2 linked regions of the Homo sapiens genome follow. The protein of the gene in region 1 interacts with the protein of each later gene in a pairwise test. Each region holds a gene or a part of one and is shown in the gene's direction. Other genes may lie near its edges.

Region 1 (5,247 bases):
AGTAGATCTCTAGTTGTTTGGAACTGGCCACAAAGAGTTGTATTTGTTGAGTAGGTTAGAAACATGTCAGATAATAGCTACAGGCACACAGCAGCAGCAGCGATATTTAAAAGATATCAGATATGTAAATTAGTCTGTTATTCTTGTGTTCTAGAAAATGAAAGACACTCATATGGAAGATTTTCCCAAAGACAAAGAAACAAACCGGGATTTCCTACCAAGTGGAAGAATTGAAAGTACAAGAACTAGGGAGTCTCCACTAGATACCACAAATTTTTCTAAAGAAAAAGACATTAATGAATTCCCACTCTGTTCACTTCCTGAAGGTGTTGACCAAGAAGTCTTCAAGCAGCTTCCAGTAGATATTCAAGAAGAAATCCTTTCTGGAAAATCTAGGGAAAAATTTCAAGGGAAAGGAAGTGTGAGTTGTCCATTACATGCCTCTAGAGGAGTATTATCTTTCTTTTCTAAAAAACAAATGCAAGATATTCCCATAAATCCTAGAGATCATTTATCCAGTAGCAAACAGGTATCCTCTGTATCTCCTTGTGAACCGGGAACATCAGGCTTTAATAGCAGTAGTTCTTCTTACATGTCTAGCCAAAAGGATTATTCATATTATTTAGATAATAGATTAAAAGATGAACGAATAAGTCAAGGACCTAAAGAACCTCAAGGATTCCACTTTACAAATTCAAACCCTGCTGTGTCTGCTTTTCATTCATTTCCAAACTTGCAGAGTGAGCAACTTTTCTCCAGAAACCACACTACAGATAGCCATAAGCAAACAGTAGCAACAGACTCTCATGAAGGACTTACAGAAAATAGAGAGCCAGATTCTGTTGATGAGAAAATTACTTTCCCTTCTGACATTGATCCTCAAGTTTTCTATGAACTACCAGAAGCAGTACAAAAGGAACTGCTGGCAGAGTGGAAGAGAGCAGGATCAGATTTCCACATTGGACATAAATAAGCATATTCAGCAAAAAGGTCTGAAAAGCAAGGGAATACCATTATTTTCGGATTAGCGGTTTATTAAGCTCTTCTATATTAAACACTAATAGATATTCAATAACGGAGTAAACTGTTCCAGATAAAGCAAGAATAGTTGCAAGAAGTAAATTCTGGCACAAAGCGTAAAAATATAACAGAAGAAATAATGTAAAATACTATCTTTTATGTCTAAAGCCATTTTATATTACTTTTCAATAAAAAGAATATCATGGTCAACATAGAATATTTTTCATGAATTGGTGGGGAGATGTATATGTTTATATATAAAAAATAGCCAAATCGTTGCAATGATATGGTAAAGGACACATTTTTTTTTTTTTTTTCCTGTGAAATGTGGAATATCTCAAATTCAGCCTCTTAGGCTGAATAGCAAATCCTACTGCCAACTAACCTATTAAAAATATAGATAGTTTTGACTAAAGTACTACATTACATTTAGTATGTTGACTTTTAAAATACCAAAGCAATTTATATTCAATTAATGCTTCTTCATACACCAAGAATCTACCACAATACACAGCACACAAAGGCCGTTCAATAAACATTGAATGAATGAATGGTTTGGCTAGGGCCAGGGTGGGGAGTTAAAGTGAGAGGAGGGTATATGTTATAGAGAACAGTGGTAGAAGGAACTCTCCGTGCAAGTAAATTAAGGGAAAGATGGACACCAGAAAGGCAAGGTGATGGGCCTATAAGCATACTGGATAATGGAAGAAGTCCATTTCTTTCTAGCTAGTTTGAAGGGCCTAAAAGCACTGAGATGTTTTTGTATCTTCCCTACATTTGGAGATGATATTAGGTTGTCATAACAACCACAAATATAGACCATTACTAAATTGGTGGATGTCCTCTTTCTCCCATTGTTATTGCCTTCCTCTTTTGCCTGCTAAACTAAAAATTGGATATAAGATTGAGAATGTATTATATAATTTGCAAGACATAGAGGATGTTTATAGAATATACTAAAGTATCCCTCAGCACCAATATGGGAGTATCCTGGTCTCAAGTTTATAATTTTTGCACATATAATCTAAAGAAGAGACTTTAAAAATAAAGTACACAAATATGAACCAAAGAGTAGCTTAAAAATACTTTCTTCTAGGTCTGAAATTTTCTTTTCTTTCTTTTTTTGTTTTGGAGACAGAGTCTCACTCTGTCGCCCAGGGTGGAGTACAGTGGCGCAATCCCAGCTCACTACAACCTCCGCCTCCCAGGTTCAAGCAATTCTCCTGCCTCAGCCTCCTGAGTAGCTGGGATTACACGCATGCCCTACCACACCCAGCAAATTTTTGTATTTTTAGTAGAGATGACATTTCACCATATTGGCCAGGCTGGTCTCGAACTCCTGGTCTCAGGTGATCCTCCACCTTGGCCTCCCAAAGTGCTGGGATTACAGGTGTGAGCCATTGCTCCTGGCCCCAGCTCTGAAATTTTAACTTAGTTTTGGATTCCTTGGAATTTGAAAATATGCTAACACGAAGGATTGTAAATAGGTAGTTTGAGGTTATCAGGAACAGTAACTTGAAGCAAGAACATCAGAAATTGTTCACCATGCAAATATTTAGTACTCTGAATCAAGGAACATAGTATTTTTTACATGAGTATTCCAGTAAGGTAATTAAACTTATGAAAAGGGTATATAACTTTTTGTAAATCATTAAAACATTTTATAGTCCTTGTAATGATTTCAGGACCTTGGACAGCTAGAAGGGGCTTAAGAAAAAATGGCTAAGAAAACAAAGTAAATGGTTTTGGCCAGCTTAAAAAGAGAAAGCAAAATAGTTAAAAATACATTTCATAGATTGAGAATGTACGGGCTATGTCACAGTTACGCTACTTATTTTGTGGTTTTAAGTTAGTCTCAACATCTTTGGGCCTCAGAATCAACTTTTTTATGGGATCTTTTTTCTCTGTTTTTAAGATTATCTCTTTTTTCTTTGGTGCTTTGCAGGTTTACTGTATTATTTGGAAGTGCGAATTTATTTTTATTCTTAGTATATACTGGCTTCTTCCTGTATCTTTTAATTCATGTTCTGTAAAATTCTCAACCACTAGCTCTTCAAATATTTCTTCTCTATTCTAGGACTGTATACAAATGATAGACTTTCTTACTGTATCCTTCATGTCTCTTAATTTCTCATATTTTTCATCCTCTTGTTTCTCTTTACTGCATTTTGGGTAATTTCATCAGCTCTATCTTTCTGTTTACTAGTTCATTTTTCAGTAGCATCTCACCTGCTATTTAAAACAATGATGGTTTTAATTTCAATAAATATATTTTTCATTTGATTCTTTTTAACTTCCCGTTTACTCATTACAGTCCCTTGTAAGTCTGTTTCTAATTTTTAAAAGTCAAATATATGATATTTTTGATAATTTCAATATTTTAAGTCTTTATAAGTCTACATTTAAGGTTATTATTGCATATCATTGTGACTTATTTCCTTGAGTATGTGTTAATCTGCGAGAAGACAGAGGGCCTAAATTGTGTATGTTTTCCTTCAGTATGATTTGAGTTCGTTGCTTCTCTGGGTGAGGTGGTACAAACTCCTTGGCATACTCTATTCACCTTTGTGGATCCTGATTGAATGCCTTGTCTTAAGTGTAAGCTCCCTGACCCTTACTACTAGCCGAAGGTTTTGTCTCTGCAGGTCAATTCCAAACTAACAGGCAGATGCTGTTAGCTATCTGCCTCCAGGGATAAACCCCATCTTTCAAGCTTGCTTCTTGCTTGATGCTTTCTGCTGCTTTCTTGCTTTTGTTTCAGCTCGAGTTTGTTGTTGTTTTTTTTTTTTCCTGTTTCTGTCTTGAATGTAGAGGGTATTTTTATTTTTATTTTTTCTGTTTCTCTCTTGAGTGTATAGTGTAGAGGGGGTTTCTGTCTTGAGTGTAGGCCTGGAGATTTCCCTTATATGGTACAAACCAGCAATGAATTAAGAGGTCTCTTTTCTCCAAGATCTAGTGTTTTGTACTAGGAGAACTCTAAAAAGTATCTATTCCACTGTAGTGCCAAAGTACAAATTTATTTGGATTTATTTTTTGCCATCTTATTTTTTAATATATTTCTTTTTCTATGTTGTGCTTCTTTCCCACCTTTATCTCTCCTCCTATCTTTTGGGATCAGTTGGGTTTTCTATTTAATCATATATTTTCCCTTTACTGATTTGGAATGTGAATGTTACAAGTCCTTTTGATTATCCTTAAACATCTAAAAATGCTACCCTCTTTCCAAACAACACAAAGGTATTGAAATAACATTAATTCTAATTAAATTCCACAAGTTCTTTATTAAATCTCCAAATTGGATATTATTAGTATTTTATATAGTCAATGTTTATTTTTTTGATGGGACATGGTGGGGGCTTACCTTTTTTCTTGTGTGTCAGATGTTCCTTCTAGGTAGAATTCTTTATACCTTCTGAAATTATGTCCTTAGAGCTGTAGATTTAGAACTGACATCTCTTGAGCTGTTCTAAGATAATATCTTTTACTTTGGAGATACGCAGTTTTTATTATATGTCTAGCTATAGATTTATCATGGATTTAGGTTCATTATGAATCTGCAGATTTGTGTCTTCCATCAAATCTGGATTGTTTTCAATATTAAAAAAACTTCTATTTTAAAATCTGTATATAGAAAGGTACATAAACATAAATGAACATGTTAATGAGTAATTGTAACAACTATGTAACTGTCCAAGTCAAGAAATAAAACATATCAAGTAATCAAGAAGTCCAGAGTTTTCTTTGGGGTTTCATTACGTAGGCATGATTTATTAAAACCTTTACTGTGTGCTTGAACTTAATCTCCAGTTTCCCTCCTCTGTCTGGACATCAGGCTGGCTCAAAGTCTCAACACCCTAATCATGGTTGTTTTTTTGAAGTGAGCTACCTCCATCCTAAATCATCTTTTTAGCATTAGCTGTCTAGGGCCCACTGTGGGTCACATCATTAGCATACAGTGTCAGGGCTTACCATGAATAATGAAGGCACTTCTGTTGTTTAGGAAATTCCATGGGTTTTAGGAGCTTGGTGTCCAGGAACCCTGAACGAAGACCAGACCAATTATACTACAGAATCTTTTTTTTTTTTTTTTTTTTGAGATGGGGTCTCGCTCTGTCGCCCAGGTTGGAGTGCAAAGGTGTGATCTTGACTCACTGCAACCTCCATCTCCTGGGTTCAAGTGATTCTCCTGCCTCAGCCTCGAGTAGCTGGGATTACAGGCACCTACCA
Region 2 (7,144 bases), on another chromosome or scaffold:
GTTTGGGACTTTATCCGGGGAGCAATAGGAAGCCATTGTTGGCTGACATCACTGCTATGCATTGCAACTCTGGCGACCATGTAGAGAATGAGGAAAAGGGAGAGTGCATTTGGGAAACCACGTGAGTGGTATTATAATTCTCCAGGCACAAGCTAGTATCATCTTATTTTAGGACGGTGGCAGTGGAGAGGGACACATTCAACAGGACTTGTTGATGGATTGGAATTGAGATACAGTAGTAAAGTAGCAAAGTCACCCTGCTTCACTGGGTGAATGGTAAAATGTGAACACTAGAAGAGGTATAAATTTTAGGGTAAGAGAGTGAGATTAATTTTTTATATATGTAGTTGTATAATCTAATCTAATAAGGAGGCAAGGTCGGGTAGAAAGGATTCATGCCTTAATGCTAATGCTTTTGGACTAAATAACTAAGTTTCCATTCAGTTATAATGGTCTTCCACAAGGAAGTGCCATCTTTTGCAGAATTTATTCCCCCAAAGAGCTCGTGGCTGAAATATAACTCCTGGAATTTGCCTGGAATTTGAATTCCTCAGAATCATCCACACCAAGTTAATAATTAAAGGTTCCTCATACTGTCTACATTTGTTTTTTTCACCTGTGTACAGGATTCTGATTTCACAAAATCCTCCCAGCAGTATTATTTAACCTAGTGTCAAAGAAAGGTGTGTATATTCCAGCAACCCAGAGGCAAGTCTCTACCAGCTCAAGAAGGAAAAAGGTGGGAGGCTGCAGAAGCCACAGAAACTGACCCTGCCCAGAGCCAAAGCAGACAAGAGGGCTCCTGCAAAGTTAATCTTCTTTGAGATTTTCTCACACCCTCTCCAAGCATCTAGCATTGAGCTCTGAAGGGCCTCACGGTCATTTGTTCGTTAATAAATTCTTCAGACCTGAGGTGGGGGTGGAGTGGAAGGATGATAAAATATTTAAATGTTAAATGAGAAAGAAAAGCAGGAAAGGGCTCAGGTATGGTAGCTTATGCCTGTAATCCCAGCACTTCAGGAGGATCACTTGAGCCCAAGTTCACATAGCAAGACCCATCTCTACAAAAAATTTTTAAAATTAGCCAGGCACAGTGGCGCACTTGTAGTCCTAGCTATTTGGAAAGCTGAGGCCAGAGGACGCTTGTGCCCAGGAGTTTGAGACTGTATTTAGCTGTGATTGCACCACTGCACTCTTGGACAACACAATGAGAGCCTGTCTCCAAAAAAAAATTTTTTAAGTGGAAAAGGCAGAGGAGACAAGGGAATAATCTAAGGGAAGAAAAGTTTTTAAATGATAAAAGCCATATATGACAAACCCGCAGCTAATATCACACTGAACAGGAAAACATTGAAAGCCTTTCCACTAAGATCTGGAACAAGACAAGGATACCCACTTTCACCACTCCTATTCAATATATTTCTGGAAGTCCTCACCTGAGCAATTAGGCAAGAGAAAGAAATAAAGGGCAACTGAATTGGAAAGGAAGAAGTCAAATTATCCTTGTTTGCAGATGACTTGTTCTTATATTTAGAAAAACCTAAAGACTCCATCTCTCAGAACTTTGATGAACGAATTCAGTTAAGTTGAAGGATACAAAAATCAATTGATTTTCTTTTCTTTTCTTTTTTTTTGGAGATGGAGTCTTGCTCTGTCGCCAGGCTGGAGTGGCACGATCTCGACTCACTGTAACCTCCACCCCCTGGGTTCAAGTGATTCCCCACCTCAGCCTCCCAAGTAGCTGGGACTACGGGCGCGTGCCACCATTCCCAGCTAACTTTTTTGTATTTTTAGTAGAGATGGGGTTTCACTATGTTGGCCAGGCTGGTCTTGAACTCCTGACCTCGTGATCTGCCTGCCTTGGACTCCCAAAGTGTTGGGATTACAGGCGTGAGCCACCACACCCAGCACAGTTGATTTTCTATATGCTAACAGCCATCAATCTGAAAAAGAAATCAAGAAAACAATCTCATTCACAATAGCTACAAAAAAGCAAAATAAAATACCTAGCAATAAATGTAAGCAAGGAAGTGAAAAATCTCTACCCGGAAAAGTGTACACATTGATGAAAGAAAATGAAGAGAACAAAAAAAAAAAAAAAAAAAAAAGGAAAGATATCTCACGCTCATGAATTGAAAGAATTAATATTGTTAAAATATCCACACTACCCAAAGCCACCTACAGGTACAGTACAATCCCTACCAAAATATCAATGACACTCATCACAGAACTAGAAAAAAAAATCCTAAAATTTGTATGGAACCACAAAAGACCCTGAAAAGCTAGGGCAATTCTGAGCAAAAATAACAAAGCTAGAGGCATTCCTCTACCTGACTTCAAGTTGTACTACAAAGGAAAGCAAATTTTTGTGTCAGTGTAGTAGTTGAGGAGCTGCCACCACAGCCCCTGGAGAAGCACTTAGAAAAGACTTGCCTCATGGTCTTTTATTGACTATCCTGTTAAAGGCACTAGGAGAGGTAGATAGGATTTGACTACTTCATTTCCACCCTGATTCTTGTCCAGTTGCTTACCACCTACATACATTCTCACACATTCCTCACCAGGGCCCCAGCTCATGCCCTTTCCTGAGCCCTGCTCTGTGGCCGCCAGTCCTCTCCCAGGTAAGCATTCCGCCTTCTTTCCCTTCCCCTCTTCAAAACTTAGTGCAAAAGTTTCTGGGCCTAGTTCGCATCTTTCTGATTTTTCTCATCTCTGAAATGGGAATAATAAGAATGATAGTGGGAATAATAATAGAAACCTGTGATAAAACCTGTGAATTACAGTTGCCGTAAGGATTAGATAACATTATACATGCTTGAAAACTTGTTGGAAACTGCGAAGGACTATAAAAACAGAAGTTGTTTTTATTGCCTTTATTCCTAAAGAAGATTGCAAGTGTCAGGGTGTTCAGGTGCTTGGCTGCTTGTCTCTCAGAGTGAATTAATGTGAGATGTTGCCAAGTGTTTCAAAAGGAAAATCCACTCTACTTCAGCGGGACGTCCACCCACCTTGCACAAAACCCTCTGGAAAGAAGTCTTTCGGTTTGCAAACTGGAGGCGTGGGAAAACAGAAAGCGCCCAAGGAGCACCTGCCCGCACCCCGCCCGCCCCCAGGCACCTGGGGCGCTGCCGCCTGCAGTCCCGGGAACCCCTATGACCTCCGGGGGCGGTGTGGAGAGCGCTCGCCCGCCTGGCCAGGGGAAGCCAAGACTTAGGGCCCTAGGAGTTAACTAGGTTGATTGATTTTGCAGTTGACCAAGAACTTCAAAACCCCCCGGGCGGTACCGGTTACTTCGGGGAGGCCCGCACACTTCCTCCGGGAAGGCCAGGAAGTAAGTGATGGTGCAGTAAAAATGACAGATTCACGGTTGTGGAAGAAGTAGGGTATATTTTTGGAGCAGCTCTAGCTGTCCCTGTGTTGGAAGAACGAGAGGGACCTGGGAGTCCGTTTCTCCACTCATCTCAAGAACCGCACGTCCTGCCAGGTCACCGAGGCAAGTGCTAGAACGGAAGAGAGCAAGCACTGCGAGGAGGCCCGAGGAGCCACGCAATCCAGACACCCGCCGCATGTCGCAGTCCGCCCAGGACGGGGGCGCGGGCTCACCTGTCTGCGGGGCGGCCCTTGGCAGGCCTGTTTCCATGGGTGAACAATGGGCACCTTACCAACTAACCTCCCTCGCCGAAGAGGGGCTGAAGTGTTTCTATTTCGACCTCCCTACAAAAACTACCCGAGAAAATAGGAGTTATGTTTTTAGTTCGAAGAAAAAAATAATGCTATAAATGTGACTCCTGCGGAGAAATGCTTCTCAGGTGTGAGAGGGGAACTGGGTAAGAGGACGGCTTAGAGGAAGGACAAATGGGACAGGGCTTATGGGGCATGTGAATGTAAATCGGCACATGTGCGCACATATGCAAAAATACAGTGTCAAGACTCACGGCCTTTCTGGGTCACGCAGGCTCCACCGTCTAAGGAGACGGAGTCACCAACAGTACAAGTCCCGACGGCCAAGAGGGCCCATTTTCTGCGCTTGCGCAATCATCACGTTTCCTTCCCCGCCCCGAGCCCCGCCCCCGAGCGCGCTCCGCCCCGCCCCCTTCTCCTCCCCTTCCCCAGCCAGGCCGCCGGCGCAGAGCATTGTGGGACACAAACAAAGTGCCCCCAAACAGGCTGGAGTGAGCGGAGCGGCAACGGCGGCGGCGCCGGCCGCACGCGCGCGGCGGCGGCTCCCTCCCAACCTCCCCCTCCCCTCCCCTCAGTCCCCTTCCCCTTCCCCACCCCGCCCCGCTGGGAACACGCGAGCCGTCGCCGCGCTCCCCAAACAACCGCCTGCCCTCGGCCAACCGTCCCCAACGGTCGCCAGCGCGCGGCTCCCGGGCCCCCTCGCTCCTCCCCTCTGGCCCCTCCGAGCGCTGGGGGTGCTTCCCTCCCCGCCTCCTCGCACTCCCACTCGCGGGCACGCCGGTGGCTGTGCCGCCATGCCCCACCACAGGCTGCTCACGGGCCTAGGCGCGGCGGCCCGAGATAGGGGCCCCTGAGCCTCCCGGGGGAGGAGAGAGGCAGCGAGCCGCGCTCCGCCCCCTCCCCCCGGGCCGCCGCCGCCGCCGCCTCGCCGCCCCAGCCTGGCGGGAGAAGGAGGAGGAGCAGCAGGCCTCCGGGCCCGGCGCCGCCGCCCGCAGGTAACGGGGAGGGGAGGGCGGGCTCCGGTCGCGCGGGGGACGGCCCCTGCACGCTGCCCGTGGCTGACACCGCGTGGCCCCCACCTGGCGCCGAAGGGAGCGGAGAGCCGGGTCTGTCAGCCTAGTCCGCGCCGGGAGACACCCCACGGGATCCCCTCGGTGGCATTTAATCCTTCTGGGAGGAGACCGGCCTTGGGCCCCGCGGTCCCGGAGCAGTTACCCCGACCTTCCAGGGAGCTGCCCGTCCTTTGCACGCCCATTTGCCCAACACCCTAACCCGGAGCGGCCGGAGTGTTGCCACCTCTCACCTGGTCGAACCCGGGAGGCTCAGACCTGTTTTTTTTCCTCCTTTCCCCTTCTGCTTTTTCTCTGGTACAGAAAGAAAAAGATGGCACTTCTTTAAAAAAATATATATATATATATATACACACACACAAACACACACACACATACACACACACACACACCTCTTTTCCTTTCCTTCCTGAGGATCACTCTGCATCTAGTCGTTTTATTGCTGGCCTAATCAGAAAAAGGGGTTACCTCGAGAAATGACAGGTACGTTAGAACTGATTAAAAGGAAATTGCGTCCATGTGAGTTCTATGAATCCAAGCAGAATTTACAATAAAACCCCGTAATTGTGTGCTTTTTTTTGGAACTTACAAAAATGAAGACAAAAACTTAATTTCTTTTTCAGCGTGTAAGTAGATAATCTCTTGAAGTCAGGAAGAAATTCTCCATAACTTCCACTTATTTTCTTAATGCTTTATTTGGAGATCGGCTGATACCGGAAGCAAGCTGCACGATTTTGATTTCCTTTTCTCTAGGTGTTCAGTTGGAATTCTTGGGTTTAAAAAATACTGTATAAATCTTCATTTCCCCCATTACTTCACTTGGACTGTCAGTGGATTAATAATAATTTTACCTAATGTAGTTTCCCCTTATCATAGAATGTGAATATAATGAACGTAGTCCTTTAGTTTTGTATTTTAGGATTATTAGTAATGTACTGATTAATTATGAAAACCAGATTATTCATTTTGTGCAGTACTGCTTGGCATTTTTGCATTTGTAATTATTTAATTCTCAGAACAACCTAATGATGCAGATATTATTACTTGAATTTTATAGAAGTGACAAACTTAGTGATACGAAGAATTACAACTTGCCTTAGGGCACACAACTAGTAAGATAGTTTAGATTTCAACCCAAATATAATTCCAGTATAGATGTACTTTCGTGTACTTTCTACCGTACTTCTCAATAGAAGTACAATTTTATTAACTTTGTTATGAAAAATTTTAGTCGTATAGAGGTTCGTTCTATACAATTGTGATCGGTTATTCATGCAATGAATAAAAATGCTAATCAATGCAATGAATAACCAACTCAGTGATTAGCATTTTTGCCATATTGTTTCCTGTCTTTCTCTGTATGTGTGTAATTATTTGAAAGTAAGCTGCAAACACTGTAATCCTCAAATATTTCGGCATGTGTTTCCTAAAAATAGGGACATTCTCCTACTAACCCCAGTATCATTATTAATGCCTATCAAAATTAACAACTCCATCTTCAAAATTCCTCAGTTGTTCCAAAGTGTCTTTGAGGGTTCTGCCCCCAGTTGTAGTCAGTCAAGATTCATGCATTGATTGCATTTGGTGATTAAGTCTTTAGTCATTTTGTAAAATGAAGAGTATCCATCCCCTCTTCTTTTTGCAGGGGAAATTAAATAGGATGAATATTCCCTCCCTTCTTTTTTTCTGACACGTAATTGACCAAACCAGTTGTCTTGTAAAATATACCCACATTCTGGATTTGTGCCCTCCTAATGTCATTTCGTTTATTCCTCTTTCTCCCTGAATTTCCTATTAACTGGAAGTTAGGTGTAAAGGAAGGCTTAATTAGCTTAAAGTAAAACTTCCTTTGGCAAGAATATTTAATAGGTGATGCTGTGTACCTCCTGTTGCATAATATAGGAGGCACACAATGTCAGATTCCCACACTATTAATGATGCTAAATGTAACCATTTGATTAAAGTGCTGACTACTGATCTGTTGTAAAGGTGTGGTTTGCCAGTTTGTGATTAATATGTAATCTTGGGGTAAAACTTGGACACTAAGCAAATACCCAGTTTCTGACAATCTTTTGCTTAGTGGTTTTTAGCACCCATGATGACTTTTGCTTAAATCAGTTATTGGAGGTTCTCTGTAAGGAAGAGATTTCCTTCATTAAGTGCAGGTAAACTATTGTTCTTCCCCAAAATGCAAATTAAATGTTAAATTTAATCTCTTTACTTTTCAATATTCATAGTAAAGAGCTGGAGAAATAGCCACCCCCAATGATGTTTTTTGGGGCAGGGGTGAATGATACCACTTCAGACTCTCATGGGTTTTAATTTATTCCTTGTTTTATAACCAGTTACAGTCGTCTTTCTTTTTAATGACCAAATTGTCCCAGATTTGGTCA

The links. Proteins that work in one complex are often made in the same cells at the same time.
Region 2: the proteins of POLI (region 1) and ZBTB44 interact in binary tests that used the Homo sapiens proteins (3 or more experiments, as listed by UniProt).

Annotation. Positions count from the first base shown.
Region 1 is NC_000018.10:54,293,495-54,298,741, forward strand, and holds the end of POLI (DNA polymerase iota isoform a (long)), read left to right. Parts: intron 1-154; coding exon 155-973; 3' UTR 974-4,740; downstream 4,741-5,247. UniProt on the Homo sapiens protein: Error-prone DNA polymerase specifically involved in DNA repair. Plays an important role in translesion synthesis, where the normal high-fidelity DNA polymerases cannot proceed and DNA synthesis stalls. Favors Hoogsteen base-pairing in the active site.
Region 2 is NC_000011.10:130,311,907-130,319,050, reverse strand, and holds the start of ZBTB44 (zinc finger and BTB domain-containing protein 44), read left to right. Parts: upstream 1-4,133; 5' UTR 4,134-4,676; exon of another isoform or gene 4,677-5,234; intron 5,235-7,144. UniProt on the Homo sapiens protein: May be involved in transcriptional regulation.